Homo sapiens: one gene and its partners. The protein of the gene in region 4 purifies or fractionates together with the protein of the main gene of each other region. This does not show direct contact. Each region holds a gene or a part of one and is shown on either strand. Other genes may lie near its edges. The genes, in order: RFT1, PIGG, VKORC1L1, ADORA2B, SLC39A10, PTDSS2 and MPZL2.

Region 1 (3,063 bases), on a different chromosome or scaffold from region 4:
TGCCCACCTGACCCCAGACTCAAGCATGATCCTCATTCTACCTGCCTCGGAATCACCTGGATTGCAAGTCAGAACATGGCTTCCCAGGACCCACTCCAGGCCTTCAGGGTCTGTGTCTCCCAGGAGGAGGGCTCTGAGATTGGCTTTTCTGGCAAGCCCACGTGGCTTTGATGCCACCAAGGTTGGCATGCCCCATTGTCTTCCTTCGTGACAGGCCCAGGACCATCATGCTCATGCTCACAGTGCCTGTTCTCTGCTCCAGGAACAGAGCTGCTGCTCTACAAGCAGCCTTGTGACTCCGGGGTCTCTGGGAGCAGGACTCCCCAGGCTTGTGCTCTCTCAGCTTGAGAGAGGCTCTATGTCTGAAGGCAGTGCTCACTCTCTCATCCCTCCCCTGCTGTTCGCCCAGTGCTGCTGTCAGGGCCAGCTCCTCTTGAAAGACAGCCAGCCGCAAAGGCAGCCCAGGGCTTCTTCCGGTGTCCTGCTTCCCTGTATCTAGGGAGAGTTGTACATGTGGCTGCGTGTTTTCCCAGGACTAGCCCTGCCGCCTGGGCTGTCAGCACTTTGGCAGCAGGTCCTCTGTGGTTCTCTGCCTCTGGTGCCTCCCTAAAGCTCAGCTGGACCTGACCAGGCCTCTGGCATTTCCCCTGCTGGACCCCCTAGAGCCACAGCTGTGCCTCAGGGAGCTTGCATACATGTGGGCCAGCCTGCCTCACTTTACCCAAGTGGATTTGGGGAGCAGAAATCATACTTTTGGCTTTCAATACCACTTATAGTGAGGCTACTTCTCCATGGAAACAAGTCTCTGAGGCACAACCTTTATGAAAGGAAGGAGCATTCGTTGGTGAGAAGAACAGTATCGCTGACTTCCTGTGCTCCTCTGGCCACAGGTAACTGTTGGTCACTTCAGATTTGGCTTGGGGTCTCTCAGTGAGGAGCTGCTGCTGTGCTGTTTAATGCTTACCTGATGGCAACTTCTGGCTCTGGAACCGCTACTCTGCCCTGTTCCCAGCCACTTCCCAACCTGATTCAAGCAGGGCCCCTCCTTCCTCCTGTCTTTATTTATTTATTTATTGAGACAGAGTCTCACTCTGTCGCCCAGGCTGGAGTGCAGTAGCGCGATCTCGGCTCACTGCGAGCTCTGCCTCCTGGGTTCAAGCGATTCTCTTGCCTCAGCCTCCTGAGTAGCTGGGGCTACAGGCGCCTGCCACCACACCCGGCTAATTTTTGTATTTTTAGTAGAGACAGGGTTTCACCATATTGGCCAGGCTGGTCTTGAACTCCTGACCTTGTGATCCGCCCGCCTCAGCCTCCCAAAGTGCTGGGATTACAGGCGTGAGCCACCGCTCCTGGCCTATTCTTTTCTTTTCAGAGACAAGGTCTCACTCTCTCCTCTCGCCCAGGCTGGAGTGCAGTGGTGTCATCATAGCTCATTGCAGCCTCAAACTCCTGGGCTCAAGCAATCCTCCCACCTCAGCCTCCTGAGTAGCTGGGATCACAGGTGTGTGCTACCTCACCCAGCTAATTTCTAATTTTTTTTTGTAGAGACTGGATCTCACTGTTGCCTTGAACTCCTGGGCTCAAGTGATCCTCCTGCCTCAGCCTCCCAAAGTGCTGGGATTCCAGACCAGCCATTTTTTTTCCTTAATCATGCATTCCTGTTGCTAGTTTCACATCAGTCCCCTGGTTTAATAAGAAATAAAATATTTTCTTCACACTTTTGAAAAGACCTTTCTTCTTTCATACCCCTTCTCCCTCCAAAAGGGACAAAAATTCTTTAATTTCATAAGGAGGGTAGGTAAGTAACTTGAGGATGTGAACCTTTGGTGTTCCTCAGCTGGAACGTTTCTCTCTCTGTTGATGTTGTAGCTGGGACTGGGCTTCTTGACTTTGGAAGAGGGATGGTATCCTGGCACCTCCTGTGTCTGGGACTGAAAGGCCTGTGGTGTCTCCTTTGCTCCTCTCCCCATCCCCCCTTAAGCTGTATTTCCCGTTGTTTGCGGGACTTCTCTCCTGTCTTCTCCATCTGGCCTGGTCCTTGTTTTGTTTGTTTATTAAACGGCCATTCCTTGAGAAGTCAGGACTAGTTTCAGCACAGAGCAGGGCAAGTGTGTGATTTCAGGGGGTCTAGGACAGCCCCTTCACTCTAATATCCTCCTCCATCAGGTGATAGAATTTCCTTTCACCTAGTTCAAAGACTGTTATTTCCAGAATTTCCTTTCACCTAGTTCAAAGACTGTTATTTCCAGAATTAGAGAGGATACTGGAAATTCAGATTCCGCAGAGAACTCGGTGACTCATTCACACTAAGATGTAAAATAACCCCATCAAGATTTATTTCCTTTTTGTTCTCTAGTGAGAGGAAAAAAGAAAAAAGAATTCTTTGCCGGGCCAGGCGTTGTGGCTTGCGCCTATAATCTCAACACTTTCGGAGGCTGAAGCAGGAGGATTGCTTGAGCCCGGGATTTTGAGACCAACCTGGGCAACACAGGGAGACCCCATCTCTACAAAAAAATTTAAAAACTAGCTGGGCGTGGTGGCACGCACCTGTAGTTCCTATACGGGAGGCTGAGGTGCAAAGGATTGCTTGAGCCCAGGATTTCAAGGCTGCAATGAGCATGTTCGCGCTCCAACCTGGATGACAGAGCAAGACCCTGTCCCCCCACTCCAAAAAAAAAAAAAATTATTTCCTGAGCAGCTTTTGATGTTGAGGAAGAGACAGGCAGGAGCTGGGAGCATCCAGAACCTGGAGGAGGAGGGGCTCAGGTGAGAGGCTGGGCAGGCCCGGACGGTGGGAGCTGTGAGTGTTGCTGTGTGGCCTCTGGGATGGATGGAGTTCAGTTCACAGTGGGAAATCAGGGGCAGCATGATCCCTGGCCTAGTCTTAGAAGAGCCATGGCTGAAAACGGGGTGGGGACTAAAGAAGAGAGAGAATCCGAACAGGGGATATCCTTCACATATTTTATTTATTTTTTGAGAGAGTCTCGTTCTGTTGCCCGGGCTGGAGTGCAGTGGCACGATCTTGGCTCACAGCAACTTCTGCCTCCCAGGTGCAAGCAATTC
Region 2 (4,336 bases), on a different chromosome or scaffold from region 4:
TTCCCAAAAACCAAAGATTACATGAAATTGTTGATTTTTATTTTCAAACAAAGGTTCTTAAAGTGTAACAAATAAAAGATGGTCAACCTCAGTGGGGTGTGGTGGCTCACACCAGCAATCCCAGCACTTTAGGATGCCAATGCGGAAGGATCGCTTGAGGCCAGGAATTTGAGACCAGTCTGGGCCACATGGTGAGAACTCATTAAAAAAAAAAAAAAAAGACAGTTAACTTGAACTCTCACTTCTCATTCACAAACGGGTCTCCCACCATCAGATGTGGATGCCCAGAGGCCAGGCGGTGACAAATAGAAACCGTCCTCTTGTTCCCTGGTACCCTCTCGGGGTCAGCCCTGCACCTACCAGCTCACCTCCCCTCTCCTGCCTCCTCCCATTAACTCAGTAACGCATGATACGTCCCTAGACCCACATGGCCTCACAGGGTCTGCTGTCACCCGCTCCTGGGTGAGGAGATGGTGCAGAGGTTGACGGCCTGTCAGAGGGCAGAGCCCGGAGTCCCGACCGCGATGCGGTGGTGCAGCACCAGCCAGTCCTGGCCTGTGTGAGGGTGGGGAAGGCCGGGCTCCCTTCTGTTTCTTTCACTGCAGCTCCCGCTTCAAAGCCTCCCAGGATGACGGGGAGACTGGGGCCACACGGGGGCCTGGGCCTCACCCCGGGAAGGGGTACCTGGGTGTCTGTGTATTGTTGCTTTTTAAATGGCACGCGTTTTTACACAATCTTCAGGATTGTTATAATAATAAAATAGAACATTTATAACAATATAATTGTTACTGTCATAGAAATTATATGAATGTGGGCTGCCTCAAAATAACTGTCATATTTTCAGACTATGGTTGACCTCGCGTAAGGAAAACCGCGGATAATGCGGTTGGGGGTGGCTCTTGCATGTGGGGCGGAAAGCCAGCCAATTCTTTCCTAATGCTTTAATTTTCCAGGAAAGTAAGAAACAAGGTGTCAAAGTGCTATTCCGGGACACGGAGCTCCCTGACACACCCGGCTGCTCTACATGCCTGGGATCCCACCCCGATGCTGGCGTGCCCCGCACAACCTCCCAGCAGCCCGTCCCCCCTCCGCTTCCTCACCTCTGGAGTGGGGACCAACCAAAGTCCCCTCTCCGGGGCTTCTCTGGAAAGGAAACGTGCAGGCACACAGCAGGCAGATAGAAGGACCCATCTGCGATGACTTGGCTAACCGAGGTTTTCGTAATTTAGTTAATGCTTAGCCTCCCACAAGAATTACTTAATCAGAAGAATCTGTAATTTCGCAGCTTCTGATGTAAACTTACAAGTATCTTCCAAAAGAACTGTGCCACTAACGTGGCCCCAGGAATCCTCACGTGCTCACCAAGACTGAGTCTCGTCATTCAATTCTGCTTCTCTGCCTCAGCAGGTATGAAGTCACACCCTGTCATTTAACTGGAAGTGCCCTCATTACTAGGACTAGGCATTTCCCTTTTCCTTCTGCTGCCATTTCTTACAGGAGTTCTCTGCAGTGACGGGACCGCAACCCTTGCTGTTACTCTCGCCGCAGATGCTCTCATTGTGCTGCTTCTTTTGCTTTAGTTTCCTAAGTCTTCACTGCCAGACAATTAAAATTTAAGTCTCGGCAAATCTTAGTTATTTTTCTGTCCTGGTTTCTTCTACTTATTTCGAGCCTTGCTTGAAATGATTTGCTATACTTTCTAGGTGGTTTTCCAGTCGCCAATGAAAGGCTCAGGAGGTGGCTGAATTCCCCCACACGGCTCTGTCCCTTCAGGATGAGGAGAGAGAAAAGGGAGGATGGGGAGGAGAAAGGAGCTTTGCTAAGGGCAAAGCTGGCCCACAGAGGCTGCGCCTGCCTTGCCTGGCTGACCCCGTCCTTCTTGCTGCCCTGGGGATCATCAGCAGCAGGATAGGGGTCTGGGGGAATGACATGGCTTAGATGTTTGTCCACTGCAAATCTCATATTGAACTTGGACCTTCAGGCTGGGCACAGTGGCTCACGCCTGTAATCCCAGCACTTTGGGAGGCCGAGGTGGGTGGATCACTTGAGGTCAGGAGTTCAAGGCCAGCCCAGCCAACATGGTGACACCCCATCTCCACTAAAAACACAAAAATTAGCCAGGCATGGTAGCGGGCGCCTGTAATCCCAGCTACTCAGGGGGCTGAGACAGGAGAATCTCTTGATTGCAGTAAGCCAAGATCGTGCCACTGCACTCCAGCATGGGTGACAGAGTGAAACTCCGTTTCAGAAAAAAAAAAAAGACACTGAACCTCCAGTGTTGGAAGTGAGCCTTGTGGGAGACGTCTGGGTCATGGGGGCAGATTCCTCACGAATGGCTTGGTGCCATCTTCGCAGTAATGAGCGCATTCTCGCTGTGGCTGTTCACAAGAGAGCTGATGTTTAAAAGTGCCGGACACCCTCCTCATCCCTCTCTTTCTCCTGCTCTCGCCACGTGAAGTGCTGGCTCCTGCTTTGCCCTCGCCATGACCGCCAGTTTCCTGAGGCCTCTCCAGGAGCAGATGCCGACACCATGCCTCCTGTGCAGCCCGCAGAGCTGAGAGCCAAGATGAACCTCTTTCCTTACATGTGACCCGGCCTCAGGTGTTTCTTTATAGCAACACACGAATGGCCTGACACAGGCAGACACTGAGTGATGGGCGGGGGGCACACAGCCCAGGCATGGACGAGGCGTCCAGAACAAGCCACTAGCAAGCTTGACCCCCACATAGCATCTTTACTATATAATGATCACTGAAACACAAGTTTTCAATCATGAACAGTTACAGTGGTTCAGCACTAATAAATGAAACCTGTTAGGCTAGCCCCCAAATAAATTCACTTCTCAACATTGATTCTAGTATCCAGTAAAACACTGGTTTTAGTGTATTTTCCCAATTCTTCAGATCTCAAATACTATCCCATTCTTAATATGAAAAATGGTCTCAATTTAGAAAAAGAAGAGCTTGGCAGGTGACCAATCGGCCGTAGAAAGTCTGGCCTGTGGCCACGGGCCTACGCTCTCACCTGGTGAGCCAGTGGCCGAGGTCAGGCCGGTGAGCCCACTGCACACCTGTCTGGTTTAGGGAGCGCAGCAGCCGGCAGCAGGCCAGTATTAGCCACGGACTGGCCAGCACCATCCACTTCTCGCGGCCTCTGAGCACTTCGGAGGTAGAGGGGCTTCCGTGGCCTTTGTCTCGCTCCAGGACATCACAGCCAGGCCCGTCCTGCCACGCTGCTGTGGCCCCGTCATGCCCTTGTTCCACACAGAGGCCACACGGAGGCTCACCGTCATCTCCCAGAAAGTAGTTTCTGTAGGTTTCTTGGCTCAGAGCTAGACACAGGGTGTTCACAAGGAAGTACCAGGTCTGGTGCTCCTCCTCCACGAAGCTGCTGGCGCCCAGGCTCAAGACGTGGCCCGCCGTCCCCAACAGAATAAGAAGGTCTAGCTCTGACCACCTTGAGCTGGGATGCATGGGGTTCTGTGAAAAGGAAAGTGCACTTTGTAAGAGACGGTCTGATAACGACACACATCTTGCTGCATGTCAAGTCCTTGCTCACAGCAGAGAATGCCCTGGACACACACCATTGTTCCTCACACCCAGCACCTGGGCCCCTACTCTGGAACAGCCCCCTTCTGCTCCAACGGCAGGAACCTTCCTCTTGGGACGCAGCCTGCAGGAGTGGAGACGCCCTCAGCCCAGGCAGGGGAGCCGGACACTGCACGGCCAGCCAGCTGTTCTCACACTGGACTCCAAGTCCCAAGGTGAGTGACAAAGACTGAAAATGGTCAGAACCCTCTGGGCAGTGGTGCAGCCCAGAGAGCTTGCCCAAAGGCTCCTGGACCCGGCCCTCCACGCTCCCGCTTCCAGGCTCTGGAAGAGCTTAGGTCTTCAGATGCACGTCGCCAGTGCCTGCTTCTTGAAACCAAAGAACCTCAACAATACATCCCACCAAACCAGACCTCAAATTTCTCCAGGAATATTCTAGAAATCCAGAACGTTTCCACTAAAATGGTTAATTCTGTTGAAATGACAAAGTTGGCATCACAGTACTGTCTCTTAAATATACTAACTTAAAGCAGTCAAAAGTAAAGATGAGGACTCAATTATTGCCGTTTATTCTTTTGGTAACTACATACTGCGTGCAGCTAGGTACTAATTCAATAGCAGGAGAGAGAGCATGAGCCCAGATGGGCCCGAGGTGCAAGCGTGGCACAGATCATCCTGGCTCCGAGGAAGCCTGTGCCCTGATGACAAAGCTGTGAGTGTCTCGGTCAGACACTCAGCACAGGGCCTCTGACGGCTCAAGCCAAGAGGGGATGAGGGCTGCGCAGGGT
Region 3 (4,328 bases), on a different chromosome or scaffold from region 4:
GAATGTGGCAAAAGTTTTTATACAACTGAAACAGTGGTTTCCCCGAGGCTTAGAAAAGCAAAGGAAAAACTGGAAGGGTCTGGCTGACCATTTTGCCATGTTTTCTCAGGTAAGAGTTGAAGACATTTGCAAGAATGCAACATCAAGACAAGCTTTAACTATACTCTGTTGATTGATACAAAATAGGATGAAAAACCATTGGATATTGGGACACGAGGAACTTGTTTAGCACAACCGATGTCATGTATACCACAGTTTTAACCATTAGGCCATTTCCACTGTAGCTTAGAAAAAAGAACCAGAGGACTGCCTTGGTAGAGCTGGATGCGCTGCTACAAGATGGCCTCACTGTACAGCCCTCAAACGTGAGGACTTCTTTCTCCATAGACACCAGATGGCCAATCAGTACTTTCTAGAGTTCTTTAACTACTTCAGAATGCAAGAACAGTACATACATACTCCAACAGCCATTGAAAGATTCACATTCATGGGAAAACACAAGTCTTGATGAAATCTTGACTTAAGCTCTCTTTTAAGAAACTGGTTGAAACTGGTGAAAAGTTCATTATGATTTGGACTTGATACCTGCCTCGGGCCAGAAGACCTACGTTGCATCAATTCTGAGTCAGTTGGAAGCTACGGAATTGTTGCTGACTCTACACATTTGAGTTTACAGAGCAGAGCCCGTCCCCTCCCTTCAAAGAGAAGGCAAATAAAGCACTCAAGAGATACTGGTCTCATTGACTATTTTCAACATAAAATGATTAATCAGGTTGGAAGCAAAAACATTACTGCTGCTTCTCAACCAGAGGATTAAGTGATCACACAGGACCCTTCTGCAGAGTGCAGGTTTTCTACCTGACGGTGAAGAAAGGAGGGAAGGACACTTCTTCTGCCCAAGGTCAACACACAAAATATTTGGTTTGAGATTTAAGACAGAAGGCACTTTTAACATTCTGATATCAGATGTTAACCATACAAACATCCTGTCACAATTTCATTTGGGTGTACTCAAATCCCCTTACAAAAGTCTTCTTACTGCATGTGTGTCATTATGAGAGCAGTGGCGACATGAGCAGATTTAGCCTTGAGATGTGTCTACCTGTTGCTATTCTCCCGATGAAGCAAACTGGGCAGCATGTCAGCCCTGAAGGTTACAAATCCAGTATTTGACTGCAAAACAATTAAATTAGACATCTGAGTGGTTAGTGCAGAAAGAAACAATTAGCAAGAACACTGGCTCCCACTCCGGAGCGATGGGGCTTGGACTGGTCTTTTCCATCATAATACTCTTTGCTTGACTGGCACCAACGTTAAGGAAAAATATCTGCATGAAAATTCAACTAGTGGAAGAAACTTTACCTAAAAATGCCATGTTTATATTTCCAGCTTTTCTCCAAAGAAAAATACCCATTTTCCCATCCTTAGTGTCTGAAGGCCTTGGACTTGAAGGTCTGGCCACATGACTCATTCTGTAAGGTTAACAACTGGCCCAGTTTTATGACTGAACACAAACTGGACTTGAACGTTCCAATTCAATTTTTTCCTTTCAGAAGAGGGAGATGAAAGGGAACCGACCACCCTATTATTATTTTTTTTGCCCTATTATTTGCTGCAACCACGGCTGCCAGTACTTTTCACAAGATGCTGTGTATAGGCTATTTTCACTATCTCCTCAGTCAACGCTGAGCTGACAGTTCTTCAGTGCTACACTCCAACTAAACTGTACAGTAAGTTCTGCAGAAATGGATCTAATATTTCTACCTTTATTTACAAATATCACAAATGGATTCTAGTTGAATCTACATGTTTAAATCCATCGGCTAAAAACATATTACATATTGTAAACATGGCAATATTTAATACAGTATCTATTCTAGAATATTTTCATGTCATGATCACATTTGTTATACCTGAAATTGAATTTATACACATTAAAGAATTACTAGCAATGGTTGCTCACTTTACAATTGAGGGCAGGGGGCTAGGGCTACATTTTATCATTTCAGAAACACTTCAAAGTAAAGTTAAAGCTTGTCTTTGATTGGCTCGGCGTATCCTTTTTGTATCCATATTTAAAATGAAGACTGACACAGAAAATAGCGAGGGCCCCTTCTAATTTACCGGATTTTTAAAAATCAGTTTGAGATTCTTAGGGAAAGTGTCTGTTGTGAATAATAATAATAATAATAATAATAAAAACCTGCTGCAAAATAAACTGAATGGAAAGGGGCTTGAGACTGTTAGGGTGGAGTCTGTCGGGCGTCAGTCCTGCTTGGGTTGCAGCTGCCGCTTCCAGGCCTCGTTCAAGTAAACTAGTCGTTTGTAGTTGATAATGAGAAGAAGGAAGTTCAGCACGTACGTGACGATGCAGATGATGCAGAACTCCTTCAGCACAAAGTACAGAATGTAGGCCAGGTACAGGGACCCCACGACCGACATGATGGAGGACGTCATGAGGATCAAAGCCGCCACAGCGCTTGCTGTCATGCCTGTAAGAGAAGAGACGCAGGCTCAGTCAGGCCTTGGTGCTGGAGAGAGGCTTTCTGAGTGACAAGGAATAACACTGTGTGACTTGCTGCAGTGTTTGAATACTGATCTTCCTGCCAACTCTGAAAATTGAGAACAGAAATACTGCTCTGTTTTGTTAAAATTATACAGGTTGACTCTGCAGTTGATAATGCCAGGTTTTGGGGTTTTTGAGATGGAGTCTCACTCTACCGCCCAGGCTGGAGTGCAGTGGCACAATCTCAACTCATGCAACCTCTACCTCCTGAGTTTAAGCAATTCTCCTGCCTCAGCCTCCCAAGTAGCCAGGATTACAGGCACGTGCCACCACGCCTGGCTGATTTTTTGTTGGCCAGGCTGGTCTCCAACTCCTAACCTCAGGTGATCCTCCTGCCTCAGCCTCCCAAAGTGCCGGGATTACAGGCATAAGCCACCATACCCAGCCAAATGCCAGTTTTATAGCTGTGATGTTTTTGATTTCTCAATCTTTCAGGTAAAACATTACTAATTTCACAAACTAGCCTAGTTGAAAATATGCACACAAAGAAAACATGCAATCTCACAATCACATTAAGCAATGAAGCTGACTTGTAACATCAACAGCCCCAAGACACCAAATGAATAACGGGACATGAGGACCACAACCTTTTTCTTCCGAGCTGCACACATTTGGTGAGAACCTTCTCTGGACTTTCACTACATCCTGCCCATCTGTGGAAAGTAAAATTTGCTTTTCCATGTTTAGATCAAATTGATTAAAAATCCACAATGAGAGGTGACTACACCAACAAGCTGCTGAAGAGAGAAAAAGAAACTCTTGATAAACATTTCAGGAAGGGCTCACCCTGGTGGATAAGGGAAACCACATTTTGCCCGTTGGCTGCATGTGGGTCAAACCTGATCAAGAAAAATGGTGGACATGTGTGCTAAATCCAGGCTCTCAATACAAAAAGGCACCTGAAGCCACGCACAGTGGCTCATGCCTGTAATGCTAGGACTTTGGGAGGCTAAGGCAGGCAGATCATTTGAGGTCAGGAATTTGAGACCAGCCTGGCCAACATGGTGAAAGCCCCTCTCTACTAAAAAGTACAAGAGAAAAAAAAAATTAGCTGGGCATGGTATTGCACGCTTGCAACCCCAGCTACAAGGGAGGCTGAGGCACGAGAATTACTTGAACCCAGGAGGCGGAGGTTGCAGTGAGATAAGATTGCACCAGTGGACTCCAGCCTGGGCGACAGAGTCTTAACTCTGTCTCAAAAAAAAAAAAAAAAAAAAAAAAGGAAAAAAAAAGGCACCTGAATTCTGGACTCTATCTTCACATGTATTGTTTTTAATTTCTTATAGGCAACAGTATAGAGAATATGTGCATTTATTTTCAAGGACAGAGAAGGCAGAGCATGTTAAACTACCCTCCTACCCAATGACTCATGGATAAGGATAACAGAAACAGGAACAAAATAACAGGTGGGAGCAGGTATAAAGAAGTCAGTTAAAGAGCTGAAATCCTGGGCCCTGTTGGCAAAAAAAAAAATGCAACAAGAAGACGCCTGTGGGCCGGCTGCCGCACAGCCACGGGCCTAGATGCTTTCATAGGGCACTTCAAGACTAAGGTGCTGCTGAATTACTTGTTGCAGGGACTAGCAAATCTGGCCAGCTACCTGCTTTTGTAAATAAAGTTTTATTGGCACCCAGCCATGCTCATTCATTTATGTAATGTCATTCATTACGTAATGTCTGTGACTGCTTTCATACTAGAAGAGTTGAGTGGCTGCGGCAACTGGCAAAGCCTATTTTCTGCCAGGCCCTTTACTGAAAAAGTT
Region 4 (4,966 bases):
TGCCTGGCTGATTTATTTTTTATTTGTTTGTTTAGAGATGGGGTCTCCCTACATTGGCCAGGCTGGTCTTGAACTCCTGGCCTCAAATGTTCCTCCTGTCTTGGCCTCCCAAAGTTTTGGGATTATAGGCGTGAGCCATGTTGTCGTCATTACAGCTACATTGAGATATAATTTATGTGCCACACAATGCATGCCTTTCAAGTGTACAGTTCAGTGGCATTGAGGTATATCCACAGAACCGTACAACCATCACCACATTGAGAAAATTTTTATCACCCTAAAAAATCCTTTACAAAATCCTTTACCCTTTAGCAGTCACCCCATGTTTTGATTTTTGCTTTACATGATTTTACAAGCATCTTTTCCTGTTGCTGGAAAATCTCCTTACCCATCCTCTTTGGTGACTGTCAGCAAAGGCTTTCGGGTGGTGAAATAGCGTGGCCAGGAGTGCTCTAGAACAATGGTGTTGGTGAGGGCTGCAGAAGCTGAGGACCCACAGGCAGAGAGGGAGGGATGGTAGAAGCAGGTGGTGAGGAGGGACTCGGGGCAGGACTTTGGGGGTAAAAGGAAGCAAGTCTCTGGAAGCAGAACCAGCAGCACTGCTGATCATTGGGACGTGGAGAAAGGCGAAGGCTCAGGGTGTCAGCAAACTTCCTAGGGTGGGTGAGGGTTGCCAGGTCAATAACGAACAGGGTCCCAGGAAAAGGCGGCAGCACAGGTTTGGGGAGAATTAGAGATGAGCTTGGTTTTGGTCTTGTTGGATTTGGGGGCACCAGTCTCTCTCCTGGCGAGAGTCGGCAGTGGGGTGTTAGGATCTGGCCCTCAGGAGGCTGTTAGGGCTGAAGCAAGAGATTTGGGAGTTAAGGGTGTGAGGGCCACGTGGGAGGCCTCGGGAGCCTGTGCCGATCCAGGGTGAGTGTGAAGGAAAGAAAAAAGAGGGCCCGGGGAACACTGGTATTTTCGGGCGGTGGACGAGGATGGGACGGCCACGAGCTTGTCTTAAGGTAGAAGGCAGAGCGGGGCCGTAGGGGCAGTGGCGCGGGCGAGGGTGGAGAACAGCGCTGAGCCTCGCTGGGAGGCGGCCGGAGGGGGCTGCAGCCCCCGAGGGCTCCTTGCAGTCCGGCCCCGCAGCCTGGAGACAGCTCCGGTGGTGCTGCGCTGCCCGAGACTGCTGCACGAGCGGGGACTGCGGCCTCGGCTCCCTGCCTGCCCGGCAGCCCCCCATCCAGTCGGCCTGCCCGGGGTGCGCAGGGTTAGCCTGGAGTGAGCTCGCCCCGCCCGGGGTTGCGCGGCCCTGGGGGGTCCTCTCGCGGCGGCTCCTGGGACCTGCTGGCGCCCCGGGCAGAGCCCGGCCCCATCCCAGGAGTCGCCCGGACTGGAAGGCAGTGCGAGCACTGGGACACAGCCTCCGAGCTCGAGCGTGACGGGAAGTTGGGGCAATTTGTTAGTTATCCGCCGCCACCAAGACGCGGCACGGCGCCTGGACCGGAGGGGCCCCGCGCGGGCGCGAACTTTGGGCTCGGGCGAGTGGGTGGTGCTCCGCCCAGCCCGAGACGGGCGGGCGCGCGGGCCAATGGGTGCCGCCTCTTGGCCGCGGGGGGCCCCGACCCGTGGGTCCCGGCCACCAGCGCCCCAGCCCCGAGGCTCAGAAGCGGCAGGCGGAGGCGCGGTCCGGGCGCTATGGCCATGCCCGGCGGGTCTCACGCGGCTGCCCCTCGCCCGGCGCGCCTTCGGTAGGGGGCGCCCGGGGCCCAGCTGGCCCGGCCATGCTGCTGGAGACACAGGACGCGCTGTACGTGGCGCTGGAGCTGGTCATCGCCGCGCTTTCGGTGGCGGGCAACGTGCTGGTGTGCGCCGCGGTGGGCACGGCGAACACTCTGCAGACGCCCACCAACTACTTCCTGGTGTCCCTGGCTGCGGCCGACGTGGCCGTGGGGCTCTTCGCCATCCCCTTTGCCATCACCATCAGCCTGGGCTTCTGCACTGACTTCTACGGCTGCCTCTTCCTCGCCTGCTTCGTGCTGGTGCTCACGCAGAGCTCCATCTTCAGCCTTCTGGCCGTGGCAGTCGACAGATACCTGGCCATCTGTGTCCCGCTCAGGTGAGGCGCTCGGCGTCGCCCGAACTCGGGGCCCCGTCGGAGCTCCGAAATGGGTCGTCTTCTCCAGGCCGGGGTTCCTCCCTCGGGGGCCCCAGACGGGCCAGGCTGGGGGCGCGCGGGGCGCTTGGAGGGCTGGTTCCCAGCCTGGCCACCCCGCAACGCTAGACCAGTGCGCCCGGGCACCCAAGACATCCCAGATGCGCGTCGCTCTAAGGAGATCTGCGTAGGGACAGCTCTAGGGGGTCCGGGGAGTGCGGTCCCCGGCGCCCGGGGAGGCGCCGTGGAAACCCCGGGGAAAGCGTCACCCCCGGGGAAAGCGTCACCCCCGTGGGCGGGTGGAGCCCGGGGCGCGGGAGTTTTGGTGATCACATCTCCACTCCTGCCACGAAGGCCGTTCCTAACACTCGCCCGCAGCGGCGGTGCAGCGGCAGTCCCGTGAGTGCTGCGGCTCCCGGAGGCCCGGGAGGTTCCCACTAAGGGCAAGGCAACTTTGGACGCTGGGCATTCGCACCGTCAGAATGGACACGCATGAGCCAGCTTCAGAACGTGTCTGCTGCGGAGAGGCGGCCCGGCCCATCCCAGGGGAAGGTGTCCGTTAACTTTGGGGAACGCTACGGACTCAGATTATATACTTTTAAAAGGAGTTACAATGCTTCCTCGTGTCTGGCAAACGGCCTTACAGCCTCACTGCCCTTGTGTAACTATTTATCTCCTGCTGCCCTGTTGGGAGCGGGCTGAGAAGTGCAGAAAATGGTGGCGAACTTACTTGTCCACTCTTTCTCCCACACTGAGAAAATCTAGGATTCAGGGGATGGAGTCAGCCAGCGACCAGAGTGGATTCCCAGTTGGAGCTGATGACTTCAACATTGAGAGTTTGTTGAAAGTATTTATTCTCTGTCTTTGGTGCCTGGGCCACTTTGGCATTTCTGAGGAGAGCTTGAGATCTCTTTAAATTTGGAGCTGAGACAGGGAAACTAAATCACAGAGTAGGAAGGAAGGGAAGGAATTCATTTATTGGGTGCCAACTCTGTGCAGACAGTTTATAATAAACGTGTCCCCAGCAGTCCTTGCAGTAGTACCAGAGGACGGGTGCTGTAACCTTCATCTCGTAGAGGAGGGGTGATGGCCCAGGGAGGTTGGAGTCTTGCCCAGGATGGTGTATCAGGGATGGGTGTCAGAGCCGGGGCTTGAACTCACAGCTGGCACCGTGTCCCCACCCATGCCATCAGGCCACTCTGCAAGGCCATGTGTGGCACCGTGTTTAGGAGTCAGGGAGAAAAGTGCTCTGCTGTTTTGGGAGGAGGAGCCTGCCTGCAGTAAACTGGTGGTTGTAGGGGAATGTGTTTGTGGGAATGGAGCCGGAGAATGCTCCCAGAGGCCATTTGAGTAGGCAGATGTGTTGGGCCTGGTCCTTGCAGGTTGTTTCGTGGGTCCCAGCAGGAACAGGAGCCTCCTGCTTGGGAGGGCTGTGAGCCTTATGTGGGTGTCTGGCCACTCCATGTGCTGCTGCCCGTGCTGTTGGACCAGGAGGCCTTATGTCTCCCATCAGGTGTGACAGCCCAGGGATTTCCAAGGCTTAGGGAGGACAGCAGTTTCTTCTCTCTCTTCTGGATCCCTTCCCTGCCTTTTGGTGTCATCGTTGTTACTTGATGGCATTTTGGATGTTTTGCATCCAGCAGAGCAGTCACAAGCCCCAGCCTGAGTTGTCCATCTAATGGAAACCCCTTGGACTTGCCCTGGCAGAGACCAGAGACCCAGAGAGGAGTTAGTGGAACAATCTCCCAGGCCACAGGGAGCAGGAAGTTCCATGAAAGTTTAAATCTGTTCCTTCTTGTCCTGGTTTGTGCTGGGTGAGGTCTTGAAAAAAATGGGTGTGGGTGTGTTAAGGGGAAAGTGCTGTGAATCACAGGCCCTGAGCTTCTTTGCATTGCCAAGGGCAGGAGGGAAGAACACTGAGGCTCGCCCCATCCTGCCTTCCTGGCCCGTCCAGAGCTTGGAGGTCTGGAAGAGGTGCACAGGCAGTCCCCAGCTCCCTGCCCCAGAGTTAGTCGTCTGACCTGGCCACAGCACCACCCCAACCCTGGTGGGTGGGAGAGGTGTACTAGGGCCCCCAGGGCTTCCCTCTCAGGGGCTGGTGCCTGGGGCAGGCCTTCCCTCAGCTGGCCTAGCAGTTCATGGCCCCTTGGGAAGAGGTTAAAATACAGATTACAGGGCCTCACCTGGTTGTACTGAATCAGAATCTCTGGAGTGGGTGTCGAGGGGATTCCAGCAGTGGGATCTTTAACCAGGGACATTTGGGTCCAGCGATCTAAGAATCCTCCTAGATTCAGGGCCTGAAGCTTTCCTCACTTGACTGACACAGGCTGGGTGCATGGCGCCCCAAGCACTGACTTGGCCCTGAGGCCTTCCTGGGGTTGTGGAACTCCAGGTGAGAGTAAAGTTGGAAGTGCCCTGTTTGGGAGGAGGTGTGTCCCCTTTGAAGCCAAGCAATAAGGAGGGTGAGGTGCAGGGAGTGAGGGCTAAAGGCTTAGGCTAGGACAGTCCTGGGACCTACCCCCAGTTCCTCCCGGTTCGAGGGCTCCAAGTGTGAGGCCTGTGGCCGCAGAGACCACAGCCCCCACCTGCCACCGCATTGCCAAGGTGTTTACTGATGTGACAGATGACAGTGTAGAAGGGAGGGGAGCCGGAGGGAATGCCAGGGACAAATATGACGCCCTTGGCCTGGCCCTTTGCCTTCAGGACAGGGCTGGCCACAAACAGAAGTCCATTGCCTCTGGTTCAAGTCCATAGACAATTCCTGATGTTGGGCCCTGGCGGCGGGGGGCTCCAGTCCCCAGTGGTGCCGACGGGAGTGGGCGTGTAGCT
Region 5 (4,336 bases), on a different chromosome or scaffold from region 4:
TCTTGATGAAAGGGGCTAGGGAAAGATTTATTTAAATACTTTATCAATATAAATGAAACAATACATGGTGTGTTACTACATTATAAAATGAGATCAGTAAAACAATGTAAGAAAACGTAATAATAAGATAGTATAATATACACATAACGTATTCTGTGTATATATACATTATAAGGCAGTGAGATCATGTTTTCTATTCCCATGGACCTTTTTTAGAAAAGCATATCATATTTTCATAATTTTTTAATGTTTGGAATATACTGTTTTTAAGATTTTGATTTTATGGTGTTTCAAGAATATAGAAGTTATGAAAAAAAAAGAAATAAGAGAAAAGTAAATTGTATATTAAAACAGAAAAAAGATTTGGGTTTTAAATTAGGATAGTCTATAGTTTTTTTCTTTTTTTTTTTTTCAACTTTTATTTTAGATTCAGGGGGTACATGTACAGGTTTGTTACCTGGGTTATATTGTGTGATGCTGAAGTTTGGGGCATGAATGATCCTGTCATCCAGGTACTGAGCATGGTGCCCAACAACTAGTTTTTCAGCCCTTTCCCTCCTCCTTCTCTCCCGTTTTTTCCAAATAAAGTGAATAATTGAATGTATATAACATCTTATGAAAGCACATACAGTGTACATATAGAATTTATTTTCAAGCAAATAATCATGCCAGTTAAAAATTGAAAATCAGAAAGGTATGCTAAAGTTAAATCACTGAAATATATTAAGAAAAAAGTTCTTTAAATTCACTGTAAATATAATTTCATGGAATATATAATTTCTAAAACAAATTCTTAAATCTTTTTCTGTGAAGATTTTTGCGTAAACACAAGTACTTAAGGTTTTTTAGTTAACTGATATGTGTGTGAAAGTGTTGGATGTTAGTGCAACTGACATTTTTCTTTTTCCTAAAAAAGAAATAGATGTTAGGGGTTTTAGTTTTTTAGGAGTTATTTTTAATTATAGCTTTTCTTTTAAAAAAAAATAAGAAAATATACACTAAAATATGGGGAGAAAAAACTTTTAAAATTTAGCAGCAGTCATAGAAGAAATTGCAGAAACCTTAATAAGTTTCATTGCATGTACATGAAAACATCTATACATGAAAGGGAAAACATGATCAAAATAAAAAGGAACAGAACTGCAGGGTTTTTGCAGAAAATGTGACTGAATCATGTTATGTAAAAGCTCATATATGTTGGAAAAAATATTGAGACATCAGGAATAACTTTAAAAATATGAATTAAAAATAAAGTAAGACCTTTTATTTATTTAAAAATTTATAATAATGTGAATGAGAGTGCTATGATCATACTGCTGGTGGCAGTATAACCAAGCTTAATTTCTCTAGAAATCAATTTGGAAAGTAAGTATATGACAAAACCTGAAAAGTGTTAAAGTTTTTATAGTTTTTCCCCTCATCTTGGAATTCATTCGAAGCAAGTAATCAAAGATAATAGCACAAATTGGAATTAAAATGTTTGCATATTGTGTTTCAGACTGCAAACAGGCTGGGTGCAGTGGCTCACACCTGTAATCCCAGCACTTTGGGAAGCCGGGGTGGGAGGATTACTTAAGGCCAAGAGTTTGAGACCATCCTGGGCAACATAGGGAAACCACCATCTCGACAAAAAATTTAGCCCAGTGTGAGGTCGGGCACGGTGGCTCACGCCTGTAATCCCAGCGCTTTGGGAGGCTGAGGGGGGCTGGATCACCTGAGGTCAGGAGTTTGAGACTAGCCTGGCCAACATGGCGTCTCTATTAAAAATACAAAAATTAGCTGGGTGTGGTAGCAGGTGCCTGTAATCCCAGCTACTTGGGATGCTGAGGCAGGAGAATTGCTTGAACCTGGGAGATGGAGGTTGCAGCGAGCAGAGATTGCGCCATTGCACTCCAGCCTGGGTGACAGAGCGAGACTCTGTCAAAAAAATGAATAAATAAAATTAGCTGGGTGTGGTGCTGCGCACCTGTAGTCCCAGCTATGTAGGAGGATGGCTTCAGCCCAGGAATTTGAGACTTCAGTGAGCTATCATTGCACCACTGCACTACAGCCTGGGCAACAGTGGAAACCTGCCTCAAAAAATAAATACTTGAAAAACCCACAGACAAATGCTTGTGAAAATCTTAAAGCTAGAATTCATTTTCTTCCACATGTGACATTATTTTATTGGTTTGTCAACTAAAATTTAATTTATAATTGCCAACTTTTAGGTTTTTTTCAAAGTTATACATGAATATAGTTTAAAGAATCAAATAGTTGTGTGAAGTTTCTTGGGGGGAAAAATCAGTCCCCTGTCTGTTCCTTTCATATTCTGCCTAGAGAGATAAGGAACCCCTTAATTCCTTTAGTTGATTATTTTGCTATTCATTACCATGTCTCCAGATAACATGTTCATTACTTGCAGCTGATTTTCAGTTCTAACCATTATCTATTTAATGAAGAATGATTTTAGTGCTCTTTCACTTCTGTGCATACCTTCCTATTTCCTGTACTCCAGTTTCTCCGTACAATTTTCATTGTAATTTTGGTTTAGAACAGTAATTGGGGTTACATTTTTATGCTATAAATATTATTTTATACAATGTGCCATTGTAATAAATGACTACTTTCCTGCACAACTTTGTTTTTTCTGGTAATAATTAGCTTGATTTTTTTGTCCTTTTATTTAATATGCATATATTAAAAGACCCCAGCTCTGTGTTTCTGAATGTAGCTATATAAGAAAGGGGAATGTGGTCAAGACTCTATGTTCAAGAATTTTATGTAGTTTTAAAAAATTAATTGGACAGAAAGCTCCCATGTTGGGGAATAAGTAGCCTCTGTGTTGTCTGAAACATAAAAAAAGTCAATGTTATACAAAGATTGACTTGGAGATTTTTTGATTATTTTTTTCCCATGACGTCATGGAAAAGAAGGATCATTTTAGCTGGCAGTTTTTACAATGGCAAGCTGGTATAAAATCAAGGATGTATAACAGTGACAAGACACTGAAAAAGGGAAGGGTGAAAATGCATGGAATAATAAAGATTTGAGGTAGTGCAGCAGTAGCTATTTTTAGAATAAAGACAGCTGTCAGTGATGAGTGGAAAGAGAACAATAAGCTGTTGCCAGGCTGGAGTATAGTGGTACGATCACAGCTCACTGCAGCCTTGACCTCCCGGGCTCAAGTAATCCTCCCACCTGAGCCTCCCAGGTAGCTGGGACTACAGGCATGGGCTACCACACCTGGCTAATTTTTAAAACATTTTCTGTAGAGATGGGGTTTGGCCATGTTGCTCAGGATGCTCTCAAATTCCTGGGCTCAAGCCATATGCCTGCTTTGGTCTCCCAAAGTGCTGGGATTACAGGTGTGAGCCACTGCATCTGGCTGGTTAGCACTGTAAGTCTGCTTCATAATGCATGTAACTAAAATCATAAACATTTTAGTAGCTTCAAAAGACATCCCAACGACTGCATTTACTAATCTCAGATGTTTGTATTCACAAATAGCAGAACAGAGGTAGCAATATTACAGGTAGCTTTCTCCAATATGGTTCCAGGTTCCCTGTAATGAAAGGCTGAAAAGCAGAAATGCAGGTAATTGTTTTGACATTTGATGAGAAAATGTAGGTTTGTACATGAATGTATAGAATACAATAAAGATAGATATGATGTGTTGTTGATTGATTTGATACTTTAAATCAAGGTATAAATGTTTATATTCTCTCTCAAGTTAGTGAAACAGGAGAACTGAGTTAATGCCCAAGCTTAATTAGCATGCACTTAACTTTTTACATGAATGAATCTCAGTGGAAAGATTGGGTTGCCTGAACTGTGCTTTTATTTATTTATTGGAAGAGTTGCAGTGGCATTCCAAACTGTGAATATGATTTCCAGTAGATTAGATAGCTGGTGAAGTAGGGGGATGAAAAAGCAAACCATGAAGCTGTAAGAGGATTTTGTGGTCCCTGCTGAGAACTCATTACTAAAATACTTTTTATCCCTTGAAGAATATTCTAATGTCAGTGAAACTGGTAAGGTGTAGTGAGTCTTTCCAACTTCTGCTCAGATACTAGTGAATTGGGTGCCTCCTGCAATCTAGAGCAGGTCTTGGATGTGCTAACGATGCATGTGCTCTTGTAATATTTTGTTAGCATTCTTTCAAAAGAGTCACAACAGAGAGACTCCTCCCCCTCCACCATACTTTTTGTAATTTAAGTGAAAGATACATAATACTACATCTAATAATGGTAATACCTTAGGTTAATATATTTAATTGCTTTACAAAGCAGTTTCGTATACATTGGTTTATTTGGTGGATAAGTGTAGGTATTATTTTCCCTGTTTTGCAGAGAGA
Region 6 (4,336 bases), on a different chromosome or scaffold from region 4:
GTGGAGATAAACCTGAGAAGACGAGTTTACTCGCTTGGCTGCTGACCAGATGGTCTGCGGTCCGTGTCGGCCCCTGTCCGTGCAAGAGCCCCGCTGGCTAACGGAACCAGCACGCGGCCACCGCAGGAACCTCACCCCCGGAGACGCCCAAACTCAAGGGCTCAGCCCTGTAGCTGCTGCAGCTCGTTCCAACCTCAACATGCAAAACTCAGAGGAAACGCAGCACAGGCTGCCGGTCACGTGGAGATGACACAGACTCCTGGCTCCCAGTGACAGGCGACGGGGGCTGACCGGGAACGCCACGCAGCACCAAGGGCAGCCCTGGAGTCTGCACATCAGACACACTCAAGGGAGAGGCCGGCGGCCCCACGCAGCCCTCTGGTGAAGGCCTTCTGAGCCCCCGGCAGCCCGAGCAGTAAGGGTGCCACACCCACCACACGGGGCACAGGGCAGTTTCAGAAGGCAGGACAAGAGGGCAGCTTACCTCTTGGTGTTGTAGGCCGTGTCCTGAGGTGTTTCCTCCAGCAGCGTCACATAGCCAAGCGTACAGGTGAGGATGAAGAGCACGGTTAAGGTGTGGGCTCGCCTGAAATCCAAAAACGCATAAGCATGGTGTCAGAGCTTGGGCAGCATTGCTAAATACTCACGTAACAGGCCCCAAATCCTCTCTACGTCAAGGAGAGGGCTTAAACTCCACTCTCCAACTCCCAACCAGCAACTGGCTGCGAGTCCCTAGCTGGGTAACTCCGAGATGACCCTGCGTCTGCTGGCCAGTCAGGGCTGAGACCAGCCCCCAGGAGGCTGGACAGGAAGAGCCCCGTGTTCCTGGGAAGCTGAAGGCCGCTGCTCAGAGGGCACATGCTGCCACTGGCGTCCAGGGCAGGTATCTGCTATTAAGAGCAACTGGACACGTAAAACACGCGCTTTTCACTGCGCAAGACAAGCCGAGACAACAACTCTTTGGGTTCATGAAATAACATCTGAGATTCAGTGCAGCAGCCCAAGACACCAAGAGCTGAGAAGGGGCCTGAGCAGAGGCCTGCAGAGTGACCGCTGCTAGCTGGAGTGAGCCACGAGCCGTGGGTCTGCCCGTCCTCTGGCCTGTCAGAGCCCAGACGTGGGAGGAGGAGGCAGGGCGCTCCCTTTGCAGTCTTGTCCTGTCCCATCGCTGGTGGAAAAGCCCACAACCAGCCTAGTATCAGAACTGGGGGCCACCAGACCCCAGCCACTGCCTGTGCCAGACACTCGCCTGAGACCCCCTCTGCATGACCATCTGCAAATGGAGGCAGAGACCTAGTTCCTACATCCATCGGAGTGTGTCCTCGGAGAGATGATGCACCCCTCTGTGCCTCAGTTTCCTCATGTCTAACCCAGGTCCTACATCCACCAGAGTGTGTCCTCACGTCTAACCCAGGTCCTACATCCACCGGAGTGTGTCCTCACGTCTAACCCAGGTCCGACATCCACCGGAGTGTGTCCTCACGTCTAACCCAGGTCCGACATCCACCGGAGTGTGTCCTCACGTCTAACCCAGGTCCGACATCCACCGGAGTGTGTCCTCACGTCTAACCCAGGTCCGACATCCACCGGAGTGTGTCCTCACGTCTAACCCAGGTCCGACATCCACCGGAGTGTGTCCTCACGTCTAACCCAGGTCCGACATCCACCGGAGTGTCCCCTCACGTCTAACCCAGGTCCTACATTCACCGGAGTGTGTCCTCACGTCTAACCCAGGTCCTACATCCACTGGAGTGTGTCCTTGGAGAGATGATGCACCCCTCCGTGCCTCAGTTTCCTCATATCTAAATGGGGAAGCTTCTGACTTCCAAGGACATCATGAAAATTAAGTGAACAATGCACTTAAAGCATGTTGCCCAGGACTTGCCTCCATGAAATGTAAACTATTTGTGCCCTAAAGAAATGAAAAGGCAAGTCACAAACTGGGAGAAAATATTCACAATACATATATCTGATAAAACTTTGTAGGCTGCACGCGTCTGTAGTCCCAACGCTTTGGGAGGCTGAGACAAGAGGATTGCTTGAGCCCAGGCGTTCAGGACCAGACTGGGTAACACAGTGAGACCCCATCTCTATAAAAAATTAGCCAGGCGTGGTGGCAGGCACCTGTAGTCCCAGCTACTCGGGAGGTGGCAGATTCGCTTAAGCCCAGGTTGAGGCTGCAGTGCGCTAGGATGATTGTGCCACTGCACTCTAGCCTGGGAGACAGAGCAAGATCTGTCTCAAAAAAAAAAAAAAAAAAAAAAATCAGGCCAGGCGCGGTGGCTCACGCCTATAATCCCAGCACTTTGGGAGGCCGAGGCGGGCGGATCACGAGGTCAGGAGATCGAGACCATCCTGGCTAACACGGTGAAACCCCATCTCTACTAAAAATACAAAAAATTAGCCGGGTGTGGTGGGTGGGCGCCTGTAGTCCCAGCTACTCGGGAGGCTGAGGCAGGAGAATGGCGTGAACCCGGGAGGCGGAGCCTGCAGTGAGCCGAGATCGCGCCACTGCACTCCAGCCTGGGCGACAGAGCGAGACTCAATCTCAAAAAAAAAAAAGAAAAAAAATACTTTTTATCCAGAATTTATAAAGAACTCATACAGCTCAATAAACAATTTAATGAAAAAATAGGCAAAAAATTGAACAGACACTTCACAAGGAAAACATACAAATGGCCAATAAGCACATGAACAAACGAGGAGCAGCACTGGTCACCGTGAAAGCAAATCCAAGCCAGGACACATCAGTACACATCCGCTGGAACGGCTGAAATTAAAAGCATCACAAATCCAAGCCACGACACAGCATCAGTGCACATCTGCTGGAACGGCTGAAATTAAGAACATCACAATGCAGAGTGCTGGTGAGGTCTCGGAGCAAGATGCTCACGCACTGCAGGTGGGACTGCAAAACGGCACAGAAAAGTGAGGCCTATGCTACGTCTGCTATCCAGCCAGCCACATACTCCCAAACGTGGGCCTGAGACAGATGAAAACACAGGTCCAGTCAAAGACACACTCCCAAACGTGGGCCTGAGACAGATGAAAACACAGGTCCAGTCAAAGACTTACATGCAGATGTTTCAGGTATAATAACCTAAAACGGGAAACAAACCAAAACTCTATCAGTGGAGGAAACACTGTGGTCCCTCCGACCAGCGGAGCATGGCTCAGCACTCAGAGGAATGTGCTGCTGGCAACGACCTCAACGTGGATAGATCTCAAAGACACGCCCCTTGGGAGGCCCAGGCAGGAGGACTGTTTTGGGCCAGGAGCTCAAGACCAGCCGGGGCAACATCATGAACATCGTGAGATCCCGTCTCAAAAGATAAAAAAAGAAAAAGAAAAACACGCTACAGACGCCAGGCACAAAAGAAACCTCCCATCTGCTGTCACCCACACACGACTCAAGGAAATGAGTTTGCATCCACGAAAAGCAGACTGGAGCGGAGACACGGGCCTTCCGGATGATGGAATGTTCTGGTGTGAGCGTGGTTGTGGCGGTGCATGGGCGTGTCACCTGCACGTGGGTGCTGCACTGAACGCACCCACACCTGGACTTAGCCGATTTCATGAAGAGCCAGGGTGGAGCTGCAGGACTGCAGGTGGAGGCTCCAGGCTGGAACTTTCTGTATTTTTTGTGCAGATGGGGTCTTGCCATGTGGGTCAGGTTGGATTTTTTTGTATTTTTTGTAGAGACGGGGTCTTGCCATGTTTTCCAGGCTGGTCTCAAACTCATGAACTCAAGGGATCTGCCCACCTTGGCCTCCCAAAGTGTTGGGATTACAGGCATGAAAGTGAATTCTTCTGCCATATTTTACAATACTAGGCATTTAAGACAACCAGAGGTAAATAAAAGTTTCATTGTGACTATCAACCACCTTTTTCTTTAGATACATTTGCATTTGAGTCCTAAGCCATGAGGAAACCGCAGGGAACCTCAGCCTTCCTGCTGAGCTCCACACCGTGGGGCCCTTCAGTACTGAGAGACCTGCCCACAATCACAGCAGAGAACCCACGTCAGAAGGCCCTCTTAGGCCCCCATTCCTAAGGGTGCCTGGATTCGGCGACCCAGAAACTCACCCTCTGCTGAACACTACACTTACAGAACGTGTCCTCCTGGAGACAGCCCTTGAGGGGAAACGGGCTGGGCTCAGCTGGGGCCCAGGAGTCCCCTTGTCCCTGGCCTGCCCCTCCATGAGGCCCACCCTTTCCTCCATACAGGTGACATCAGATTTCGGTGAGGAGAGTAAGATGACCCCGGTTAGGATAAGAAGAGTCAGGAGTGTTTGGGGGCAGGTACCGTGGCTCACACCTGTAATTCCAGAGCTTT
Region 7 (4,336 bases), on a different chromosome or scaffold from region 4:
TGTACAAAATTATCATCATTTAGAGTTGATTTTTTTCACCAGCCCTGAATTTTCAAACTTGTAATATGCTGTTTCACAATTTTTTTATTAAATTACTTAATGATTCCAGTCTGCAAATGAGCATAGACTTTGCTCTGTTGTTATAGATCATTGAATTGGGGGGGAAACATAGTAAGCTAAACTATCCGTCACTGCTCATGAAAGACCCACATTGTTGATTATTTTTCCCAGCACAGAAGAAAAGTGACAAGTGATTCATCCTGCAATGGCCTCTGCCAATCTTTTCATATCTATGTAACCTTTTGTAGTTACTGTGTGATTTAGCGTTGTGCTATTGTAAATCTTGGATTAATTAACAAAACAACAAAAATCTATCACCTGGAATATTGAAAGAAATTCAGTAAAACAAGATGTGTCTCATAGTTAAGGAGAGACATAAAAATAAAAATGTCATTTAACAGTTTGAATTTAGGATTTACTGTTAATCAGAAACACCGAGGAGGCTTAGCTCACCTTTTAATTGAGAATGTGGGAAGGAAAGAGAGTAAACACATTAACTTTAGTAGCAGAAGTGCTGCTAAAAGAAATACGTGAAAGGAAATGTAACAGACAAATTGGCTTTTATCCCTTTTGATACCAATATATGTGTATACAAGTCATAACACTGTAAGTAGTGTCTTAAGGGCAAAAATGTAGCTTCTTGTTTATAAAACCTAATGAGCACTTGAAAAAATTTACACTCTGAAATTAAATAAGACCTTAATAATGAGGCTGTGTATGACTGGTGATATGGAGGAGCACTGTGCTGGCTCCAGAGGGGTGTTGCTTGTCTAGAATCTAATATGCTGCAGAACTGGTTGGAAAACGGGTCACAACTGGAAAAGCCAAAGAAAAGTTTCCATTAACTTCAAGAAATACTAGGGTTCTTGTTCTTGGAAATCATCTCAGCTTCCTAAAACACAAAACAAAAGTTTAAATGGATAATATATTTGAGAAGAGTACAATAGGAATACTTGGCATTATGAATTACATATATGTTATTAGAAGGAAAATATTCTGAGGGAAAGTATTCATATTCTCCCCCAATTTAATTTTTAAAAGAAGTTTCCTAATCCTTATTACATAATTTTCAGAGTTAGTATCCTTAAATCATGGCCTCTAAGTACCTTGCATGGACACTTGGATGACCCACAACTTGTTCACACACATACATCCCATATTCTCCCCACTTCTCACTCTCATTACAAACAAAATCAGACATATAGAAAAGTAGAGAACAGAGTATGTGGAATTTACCCATCCCTTAAATTCATTAATTCATTCTTTTCTTTTCTTTTCTCCCCTCATCTCCCCCATCACCTAATTCTGAAGCCTTTTTTGTTTTATTTGCTTTTTTCCTATGCTTTTAAAGTAAATTGCTGACATTTACCCCAATACTCCAGTAAGAATTTTTCAAAATAGGTACATTTTCTTTATAACTACAATACCATCACTATACCTAATACAAACTAACAATAATTCCCTAATATTATCCATATATTTAACATTTTCATATTCAAGACTTTCCCAATTGCCCCTCCAAGCTTGTTTTTACAACTAGCTTGTTCACACTATTATTCATCCAGTTGGGGATCACACATTGCACTTTGATTGTGTTCATCTCTTAAGTTTCTTTTGATCTAAAACATCTCCCATATTTATTTTCCATGACCCCAAGTTGTTAGATAATCCCCTTAACTTTAAAAAGACAATAGCCGTTGGTTGGTAAAAACTCCCTAATGTTAATTTTGGTTTTCTGGTTTTACAATACAATCATTTTACTCCATATTCTATTTTATAAATCCTTGAGGTCTTTCACTGGAGCTTTAGCCTATAAAAATGTGACCCTCTTTGCAACTAATAACGGTCTGTAAAAAATGTTCTCCCGTGTAACAGAGCCAGAGTTTTACAGGATAAAGTCATTAATATCAAGAACTTTCTTATGAGCGTAAAATTTAAGTTTGCATGTCCGGATTTATAACATCTAGAAATTAAATGTGTGGACCTATTTCAGAGAATGGGAGAAATTCTGAGCATATGAAAAATAAATTGGCCCGGCGCAGTGGCTTATGCCTGTAATCCCAACACTTTGGGAGGCTGAGGCAGGTGGATCGCTTGAGCTCAGGTGAGACCAGCCTAGGCAACATGGGGAAACCCCGTCTCTACAAAAAGTACAAAAATTAGCTGGGTGTAGTGGCGCGCACCTGTGGTCCCAGCTACTTGGGAGGCTGAGGTAGGAGGATCACTTGAGCTTGGGAGGGAGAAGTTGCAGTGACCCGAGATCGCACCACTACACCCTAGCCTGGGCAACAGGTTGAGACCCTGTCTCAAAAACAAAGACAAGAAAAATAAATTATCCTACTTTTTAAGCCTGATGAACCTGAAAACTGGAAAAATAAAATTATACGCTACTAAAACTGGATTCATTTCATGTAGTTATTAGTGCCAATAACTAAATGAGAGGAGTTGAAATCAATTCCAAATAGTACAAAAGCTCTCCTGTAAAAACTGCCAGATATGTCTATTGAGTCACTCTCTTAATACCATAATTGGTTTACAATTAAAAAAAAAGAATAAGCAGATACTAATCTTTTGATTTAAAAAAGATTTATTTACTTGTTGAATATTTATTAGTAGTAGTAGTAATAAATATAACCCCGAAGCCACAAATAACCTTAGGATTCTCTCAGCTTTAATGGCAGTAGAGTCCAGCTTCTTAATCTTTTGCACAAAATACACTCAAGGAGGAGCTATCCATAAGACTAATAGAAGACTTTTGTCTCCCTGACCCAGCTCCTCTAATTTCATATGGGAAACACCTAACAGCCATAAAGTGATGATCTGGGAGTCCTCATTAGAGATGGGCTGGACATGTCAGAAAGCTGAAGAAAGAAATCAACCTATTTGTGAACCTTACCATCTAAAATTGTTAGTCTGTGTCTTCTAAATAAACAGAGACCTTTTTCTCTTGGTTGAGCCTTTCCTCTTCTTTTCTGTAACAAGCAGAAACCAAATGTCAGGTGAACAAGACAAGAAGCAAGTGGGTAAATCCCACAGAAGCTTCAGGTAAGGTATTTTTCCCCCATATTTTTGGAAGAATTACATGCACTTGGGAGTAGATTGAAGTTTACACAGAGCTAAACTGGTGCCATCTAATTAATAATATTCACACCTCTGAACTTAGAGACTTTTCAGAATGTAAGGGAATACAGTTTGGGTTCTGATTCGGGAACTCCAGAGTTTTAAAGCAGACACCTTATTTTACCATTAGTATCCCACCTCTAATTTATATTTGTTATTCAAAAAAAAAATAAAAAGTTTTGTGTTGACCTAAGTCATCTTTATTGGTTCTATTCAAACTAGAACCTCAGAGTTGGGTTTGTTAGGCTTCTTAAAATTAGTTCTGTTTCGCCAGGCGCGGTGGCTCACGCTGTAATCCCAACACTTTGGAAGGCCAAGGCAGGTACATCACTTGAGATCAGGAGTTCAAGACCAGCCTGACCAACATGGTGAAACCCCATCTCTACTAAAAATACAAAATTAGCTGGGCATGGTGGTACATGCCTGTAATCCCAGCTACTTGGGAAGCTGAGGCAAGAGAATCGCTTGAACCCAGGAGGCGGAGGTTGCAGTGAGCTGAGATCATGCCATTGCACTCCAGCCTGGGCAACCAGAGTGAAAGTCTGTCTCAAAAAAAAAAAAGGCTGTTTATTTCATTAAATATTTATTAAGGAAATGAGATAAATGGTGCTGGAACAACTAGATATCCACATGCAAAAGAGTGAATTTGGACTTCTGCCTCAGCCATATACGAAAACGAACTCAAAGATCTAAATGTAAAAATTAAGACTATAAAACTCTTAGAAGAAAACATAGCCATAAATCTTCATGATCTTGGGGATTAGGCAGTGGTTTTTTAGATGAGACACAAAAGCACTAGCAGCAAAAGAGAAAAAATAAACTGGACTTCATCAAAATTTAACTTTTGTTCTTCAAAGGACACTATGAAGAACATGAAAAGACAACCCACAGAATGGGAAAAAAATTGCAAGTTGTATATCTGATAAGGAACTAGTATCCCTTAAATAACTCTTACAGTTCAACAAGAATAAGTGAAATAATGTACCCCATATTAAAATGGGCAAACTCTGAATGTATGCATCTCCAAATAAGATATACAAATGGACAATAAGAACATGGGAAGATGCTCAACATCAAGTCATTAGAAAAATGCAAATCAAAACCCCAATGAGATACCACTTCACATCCACTAGATGGCTTCATATAGTTTGGGTAT

The links.
Region 1: the proteins of ADORA2B (region 4) and RFT1 purify together in Homo sapiens (affinity purification with mass spectrometry; one large-scale study listed by BioGRID and IntAct). This does not show direct contact.
Region 2: the proteins of ADORA2B (region 4) and PIGG purify together in Homo sapiens (affinity purification with mass spectrometry; one large-scale study listed by BioGRID and IntAct). This does not show direct contact.
Region 3: the proteins of ADORA2B (region 4) and VKORC1L1 purify together in Homo sapiens (affinity purification with mass spectrometry; one large-scale study listed by BioGRID and IntAct). This does not show direct contact.
Region 5: the proteins of ADORA2B (region 4) and SLC39A10 purify together in Homo sapiens (affinity purification with mass spectrometry; one large-scale study listed by BioGRID and IntAct). This does not show direct contact.
Region 6: the proteins of ADORA2B (region 4) and PTDSS2 purify together in Homo sapiens (affinity purification with mass spectrometry; one large-scale study listed by BioGRID and IntAct). This does not show direct contact.
Region 7: the proteins of ADORA2B (region 4) and MPZL2 purify together in Homo sapiens (affinity purification with mass spectrometry; one large-scale study listed by BioGRID and IntAct). This does not show direct contact.

What each region holds. Positions count from the first base shown.
Region 1 is NC_000003.12:53,087,147-53,090,209, reverse strand, and holds the end of RFT1 (man(5)GlcNAc(2)-PP-dolichol translocation protein RFT1), read left to right. Parts: 3' UTR 1-1,727; downstream 1,728-3,063.
Region 2 is NC_000004.12:522,602-526,937, reverse strand, and holds part of PIGG (GPI ethanolamine phosphate transferase 2, catalytic subunit), read right to left. Parts: exon of another isoform or gene 4,095-4,336; intron 3,480-4,094; coding exon 3,025-3,479; intron 1,768-3,024; coding exon of another isoform or gene 1,700-1,767; exon of another isoform or gene 1,134-1,699; intron 1-1,133.
Region 3 is NC_000007.14:65,952,238-65,956,565, reverse strand, and holds part of VKORC1L1 (vitamin K epoxide reductase complex subunit 1-like protein 1), read right to left. Parts: intron 2,493-4,328; coding exon 2,266-2,492; coding exon of another isoform or gene 2,153-2,265; 3' UTR 1-2,152. UniProt on the Homo sapiens protein: Involved in vitamin K metabolism. Can reduce inactive vitamin K 2,3-epoxide to active vitamin K, and may contribute to vitamin K-mediated protection against oxidative stress.
Region 4 is NC_000017.11:15,943,483-15,948,448, forward strand, and holds the start of ADORA2B (adenosine receptor A2b), read left to right. Parts: upstream 1-1,647; 5' UTR 1,648-1,766; coding exon 1,767-2,101; intron 2,102-4,966. UniProt on the Homo sapiens protein: Receptor for adenosine. The activity of this receptor is mediated by G proteins which activate adenylyl cyclase.
Region 5 is NC_000002.12:195,663,393-195,667,728, forward strand, and holds part of SLC39A10 (zinc transporter ZIP10 precursor), read left to right. Parts: intron 1-4,336. UniProt on the Homo sapiens protein: Zinc-influx transporter. When associated with SLC39A6, the heterodimer formed by SLC39A10 and SLC39A6 mediates cellular zinc uptake to trigger cells to undergo epithelial-to-mesenchymal transition (EMT).
Region 6 is NC_000011.10:456,437-460,772, reverse strand, and holds part of PTDSS2 (phosphatidylserine synthase 2), read right to left. Parts: intron 587-4,336; coding exon 485-586; intron 1-484. UniProt on the Homo sapiens protein: Catalyzes a base-exchange reaction in which the polar head group of phosphatidylethanolamine (PE) or phosphatidylcholine (PC) is replaced by L-serine. Catalyzes the conversion of phosphatatidylethanolamine and does not act on phosphatidylcholine.
Region 7 is NC_000011.10:118,254,282-118,258,617, forward strand, and holds part of MPZL2 (myelin protein zero-like protein 2 precursor), read right to left. Parts: intron 3,033-4,336; coding exon 2,969-3,032; 3' UTR 2,957-2,968; exon of another isoform or gene 2,630-2,956; intron 953-2,629; 3' UTR 1-952. UniProt on the Homo sapiens protein: Mediates homophilic cell-cell adhesion.